Linked DNA regions of Homo sapiens: region 2 is linked to region 1. The links come from fine-mapping of genetic effects on gene expression. Tissue or cell type: whole blood. Region 1 holds a variant in brackets; the other region holds the start of a gene. All regions are shown on one strand. Distances are between the middles of the regions. Region 1 overlaps ZNF185 (zinc finger protein 185 with LIM domain). Region 2 holds the start of PNMA5 (PNMA family member 5).

Region 1 (2,907 bases):
GTTCCTGCTGAGTCTGTTTGCTTTTGTCTTCTGCTTTGCAGCCTCCAATCCATTTGCAGAAAGGTGAAGGACACTACCGTAGGGTGGTGCTTCCCTTGTTGGGATATCACACTTGTGACAACTAAAGCCTTTGAATTGAGCTAAGACTAGAGGGTAGATACCAGCGGTGACTGAGAAGGGAAGTGGTGGCATCTGACAACCCAGAGGACTCGTGTCAGCAGGAGGGGCCCTTCAGATTAGAACCTAATCAATCACTTCATTAACTTGCAAATCTAACCAGAAGTAAAAATAAAATGACTACAAAAGAGAGGAGTGGGCAGAGAAGGAAGAAAAATGGGCTGCTGGCATCAAGAAGCCAGAAAGACACACAAAGCCAAGAATGCCCAGTGCTGTGGAGCCACCAAATTGAAAGCAGGGGCAGAGAACACCTCGTTCAGCAGTTTTGAAAGCTGTCACTAGATGATGGCACAGTCACTAGAGAGTCTTAATGACAAAGAAATCTTATGTTCAGATTCTTGGAATGGGGAGAAGAGAGTCTCAGAGATTGAGTTCACTCAGGCTTCTGTGAAGAAAATGGAATAAATAGCCTTCAGTCCACAGTAAGCAAATACGGCAGACCCAGGACTAAACCCCAGGGCCCTGACTACTCCCAGGTTAGGGATGTTTCTACTCTGCCATCTTGCTTCTCATTGATGGGCAGATCTTAATTCATGTGGATGACATTCAGAGACCAAAGCTACATTGGGGAGGAAAAGGAAGGAAGTAAGAGGGTTAAGATAAAGAGAATCCTACCGGGCCCCAGAGGCAAACATATAGGAGCAGACAAGCATATGGGGCCAGGGAATCTCCTCCACTATAGCTGAAGAAGCAGGTGGTTCTGAGTAACTACAGATTACTTGGTGAGGCACATCAGCAGATGAAGTCTTAGCAGAGAAGGGCAGGTTGGTCAGAAACCTGAGAGTTAACCACTTACATAGGAGCAAATGGAATGAGGCTTCCAATTCTAGTGGAGTGACAAACCAGATACTCTAGGGACCCCCCTTTCCATTGCACAACTACTAAATCCAGAATCAGTCATTACTGATCCATTGCTAGGCTTGGAGGAAGGAAGGGGACTCTCTAGGGACAATCTCAGTCACTTGCACACATGCATATGCACAGACACACATGCACGCACACAAAGAACAGCTGTGAGCTGGTGCTGCTGGTGGTGAAAGAAGCAGGAGGAGCAGGGCTGCGCTGAGGGCAAGGATTTCAAGCAGCACTGCTGTCCAGAGTGAACCCTGGGCCAGCAGCAGGATGGTGGGCCACACCCAAGCTGCCCGTGACACTTCTGGGTCCTCCGACAGAGCTAACGTGGATCTAGATTGTTAATGTCCCCCCGCCCCTTGGGCTTCTGTCAGAAGCAGACCCAAATCTCTGGAAGAAAGTACCCTGAATTTTGGCTTG[T/C]AGGATCAGATCAAGCAGTTACTTTGAGGAAGTGCAGTCTGAGGAAGAAAAGCAGAGGTGACTCTCAGAAACAGGCATCCTGGAACTGGAAAGATGCTCAACCCAGGAGTCAGTATCTAGAACTTCAGTGTCGGATCTGAGTAGGCTCTACAGACAGAGCATGAAGGGTGGGTCCAGGAGTATAGGCAGGGGCAGAGCTCAGTTGGCCCAGGCGTGAGGAGAAGGGCCATCAAGACGGGGCCAGGCAGGGCACACAATGACATGTCTCCTGTAGGAGAAGGCATTGGTCTTCCTGCTCTAGAGGGTAGCAGGCCCCAGCGGATAATCTAAGCAGAAGGTCAGGGGGAGGCAAACTGTCTGGAATAAGTATCATATCAGGACATCTACAGGAGACATGTCATTGTGAGCTGGAAAAAGATGCATGACTAGTTTTTGGAAATAATGCAGAGGTCTACAGCAGGCTGAGAACTGATCTGGCCCAGGGCTGTGCTGCACACCACAGAAAACAGTGGCATCCTGGGGATCCTGACAGCAAACCTGGGCCTGGCTGCACCAAATTGGAAGGTCTGGCTGTGTCACATCAGAGGTCTGTACACCAGCCTGACCACCGGGTTATTGTTCTTCATCTCACAGGACAACTGGAGGGATCTGTACTTACTGCAACCGTGAGATCCGAGACTGTCCAAAGATTACCCTAGAACATCTTGGTATCTGCTGCCATGAATATTGCTTTAAGGTAAAAAAGAGGTGGAAGACACCTTGAGCTAGGCGGTAACTCCTGATCACGTGCTGCTAAGAACGTTTTGTAGAGTGCGGGAGTCTTACGGGTTCAGAGACTGTGGAGGAGGCTTGATCTCCATATACAATTGCACATAGTCGCAGAGGCTTTGCACAACTGGGAGCTGAATGAGCTTCCAAGTCTAAGACAGTAGATGAGTGTTGGTGGTTCTGCATGCTTAGTACTGTAGGGAAGACAAAAGAGGTCTTTTCAGGAAAGACTATTTCTGGCAGAGGGCCAGCAAGTGCAAAAGCCCTGGGGCAGAAGCACTAGAGTGTTCTAGCTTGCGTGGGAGAATGCCAGGAGTGACAGAGTGGGCTAGATCATGTAGGCCTTGGCGGGCACAGAGTTTGGATTTTATTCTAAGTGACATTGGGGTCCCCATTCTCCACAGTGTGTGGCACTTTGTAACCCCAGGTTGTTGGTTCCAATCCATTTAGGGTGTCACCTCTGGGTGCACTGAGAAAAACAACCCTCCCCTTTGCCTTGACAGAATGTTAGGCAGGCTTCTGTCCTCCCCACAGGGCCTGAACTTTGCTTGCTCCTGGTTAAGTAAGTGCTGCAATGCAGAACATGCCCCACTTAGCAGCTTCTCCTGAGAACCGGCTGACCACAGGGAAACACATTTCTGGTCAAATCATGCCAAACAGGTTCCCCTTTGCTTGCCCACTGGCCCTTGA
Region 2 (2,907 bases), 26 kb after region 1:
CTGTGATTCTGTCCCACACACATGTCCCTGCCCAGGCCATGCCAATTCAGACTCTGCATAGGTGTTCACTAGGACCCTGGTGCAGGGATAGAAGAAACTGCTCAACTGACAGAGGGAGCGGAGCGGGGGGAGGAGTCGGGGGACGAATGGTGAGAGGGGTGGGAGGTGAGGAGGGAGGTAGGGGGTGGGGGCAGGGGGGCTGCTGGTAGGGCAGAAGGGATCCTAAGGTAAGGTTGCTGCCCTACCCCCACTGCAAACTCCATTCCCTCCCAAGCTCCGCCCCTACAGCCATGTTGCAACCCTTCCTAAGCCCCACCTCAAAACCTGCACCCCTGCTGCCAAACTCTGCCTATAACTAAGTTGCACCTCTACCCCAAGCTTAGCCCCCCACCAAGTCTAACCCCTTCCACCACCCAAGTCTAACTCGTGCCTCAAGCCCTGCCCCCACCCACAGTCCAACTCCTACCCCAAGCCCTGCCCCCTCACCAAGTCCAACTCCTACCCCGAGGCAAGTCTAACTGATATCCCCAAATCCCCTACCTCCATTCCCCTGCTCCCCCCAATCCCCACCCGGTTATCTACATACACCCACACCACCGACATCAGTGGAAGCAGGCAGAATCTAGGAGGGGAAGGTTCGAAGCCACTTTCCCTCAAGGGCAAGGGCCAAGAGCTACTATCCTGACTGCAGTGTCTCCGGGCAGGTCAAGGGTGGAATAGGTCTCCCTGAAGTTTGTTTGTTTTTCTCTGAAACGGAGTCTGGCTTTGTCACCCAGGCTGGAGTGCAGTAGCGTATCTCGGCTCACTGCAACCTCCGCCCCCTGGGTTCAAGTGATTCTCCGGCCTCAGCCTCCTGAGTAGCTGGGATTACAGGCGTACACCACCACGCCCGGCTACTTTTTGTATTTTTAGTAGAAACGGGGTTTCCCCATGTTGGCCAGGCTGGTCTCCAACTCCTGACCTCAGGTGATCCACCCGCCTCGGCCTCCCAAAGTGCTGGGATTACAGGTGTGAGCCACCGCGCCCGGCCAGGTCTCCCTGAAGTTCTGCCTGGAAATGGCAGGGATTCCTTGGCGTGCTGGGTGTGATCTAGTGGGATCCCGCCTCCAGGGAAACCTATGGCCACCAGCCCCTAGACCCCGTGGAAAATAGCAAGAGTTACTGGGGGGTTCCCCCGTAATCTGGGTTGCTGTCCGAGCCCGGGGTCCAGCTCCGTACCTGCCGGAGGTGCCTCCAAGCCGGAGTTCCCGCGCAGCGCGACCACCACACGTCTATGGCGGCTGCCGCCTCCGTGCTGACTGCGCCACGAGGCTGTGGCGGGAAGAGGTTGTCTGGTGACGACCGCCCCCCTACCCCATGAGCGGAACTGCACACGGCCCGCTCACGGTTGCGCACTGGTGACATAAACCCTCCTACTTCCTGCAAGGTGGTTCCTCACCCCACCCACCCCCGTGCCGACGACGGTGGCAGCCAGGCTCGCCACGTGCCATTTGGCCCAGCAGCCACTGTGGCTCTTCCTCATTGGAGGGGAGCTGTGGCGTCCCAAGCCCATGGGTGAAGGGCCGGGTGCAAATCACCCAGTGCAACGTATAGGCCACGTGAGCGCCCTTATAAACGAGTCATAGCCCTCGTTTATTTTTTATTGGACTGTTCTAGGGGAGGAGGGCAAAAAATACAGCTACTGCCTGCATTTCACAAGGGCATTAGTTTTTTTTCGCTGCTCACTGAGAGCCAGATGACTGAAAATATTCCATTCTCCCATTATTCTCCTGATTTCACGACCAAACATTACGCACCTAGTACCCAAACTGCTTCCTGTCGTTTCCCAAAGCAGGTTTCTTCCACAGAGGGAAGGTCCTGCGGCTTGCAGCGGCCCGAAAGTACTGTTCCAGAAAAGGGTGTGGGTGCGGCACAGGTAGCACACTTCAAGGTGCACACAAATCCCCTGGTAATCTTAAAAAAATGCGTGAAGAGATCTGAGGCAGGGATGGTTCCACTGAAAGCTAGGTTACTTGCTGCATATCCCTGCCCAGGCTGTGTGGAGCAAGGGTCTGAAGCCTATGATTACATTTCAGGGCCAGAAGTTGTGGACCTTTAGTGACAGAATATATTTGTTTTTCTTTCTCTGTGATTAAAAAAGAAAAGGCTTTTTCTGGTACTGTTTTAATAAATATGTTAAAAGCGGACAACATTTTAAATTTATGGTCACTGAGAAAGATATTTGCAGATATCACCTTCTTCAGCCAGGTGTGGTGGCTCACACCTGTAATCCCAGCACTTTGGGAGGCCAAGGTGGGCAGATCACTTGAGATCAGCCTGGCCAACATGGCGAAACCCCGTCTCTACTAAAAATCCCAAAATCAGCTGGGTGTGTAATCTGAGTAGCTGAGTAGCTGTAATCCCAGCTACTCAGGAGGCTGAGGCACGAGAATCGCTTGTACCTGGGAAGCAGAGGTGGCAGTGAACCCAGATCACACCACTGCACTCCAGCTTGGGCAACAAAGTGAGAGCCTGTCTTTTTTTTTTTTTTTTTTTGAGAAGGAGTCTCACTCTGTCACCCAGGCTGGAGTGCAGTGGCGCGATCTCGGCTCACTGCAAGCTCCACCTCCTGGGTTCACACCATTCTCCTGCCTCAGCCTCCCGAGTAGCTGGGACTACAGGCGCCCGCCACCACGCCCGGCTAATTTTTTGTATTTTTTAGTAGAGACAGGGTTTCACTGTGTTAGCCAGGATGGTCTCGATCTCCTGACCTCGTGATCCACCCACCTCGACCTCCCAAAGTGCTGGGATTAGAGGTGTGAGCCACCGTGCCTGGCCGAGATCCTGTCTGGAAAAAAAAAAAGACAATTCAGAGCCCATTAAATCAATCTCCTTCATGTGACAAGGAGAAAATAGTGCTGAAAGCCA

What was found. PIP is the estimated chance that this variant, and not a neighbour inherited with it, causes the effect.
Region 2: it holds the start of PNMA5, and the variant in region 1 is the best candidate, but not a certain one, in a credible set for the expression of PNMA5 in whole blood (TOPMed, PIP 0.59).

The regions. Positions count from the first base shown.
Region 1 is chrX:152,967,300-152,970,206 of GRCh38, forward strand. It overlaps ZNF185 (zinc finger protein 185 with LIM domain), which reads left to right. Exons shown (of 25, transcript NM_001395254.1): 23 at 2,083-2,185. Among named protein-coding and RNA genes, the nearest start is that of PNMA5, 25 kb to the right of the region's middle. The variant T/C (reference allele first, on the strand shown) is at 1,450.
Region 2 is chrX:152,992,815-152,995,721 of GRCh38, forward strand. It overlaps PNMA5 (PNMA family member 5), which reads right to left and starts at 1,302. Exons shown (of 4, transcript NM_001184924.2): 1 at 1,219-1,302.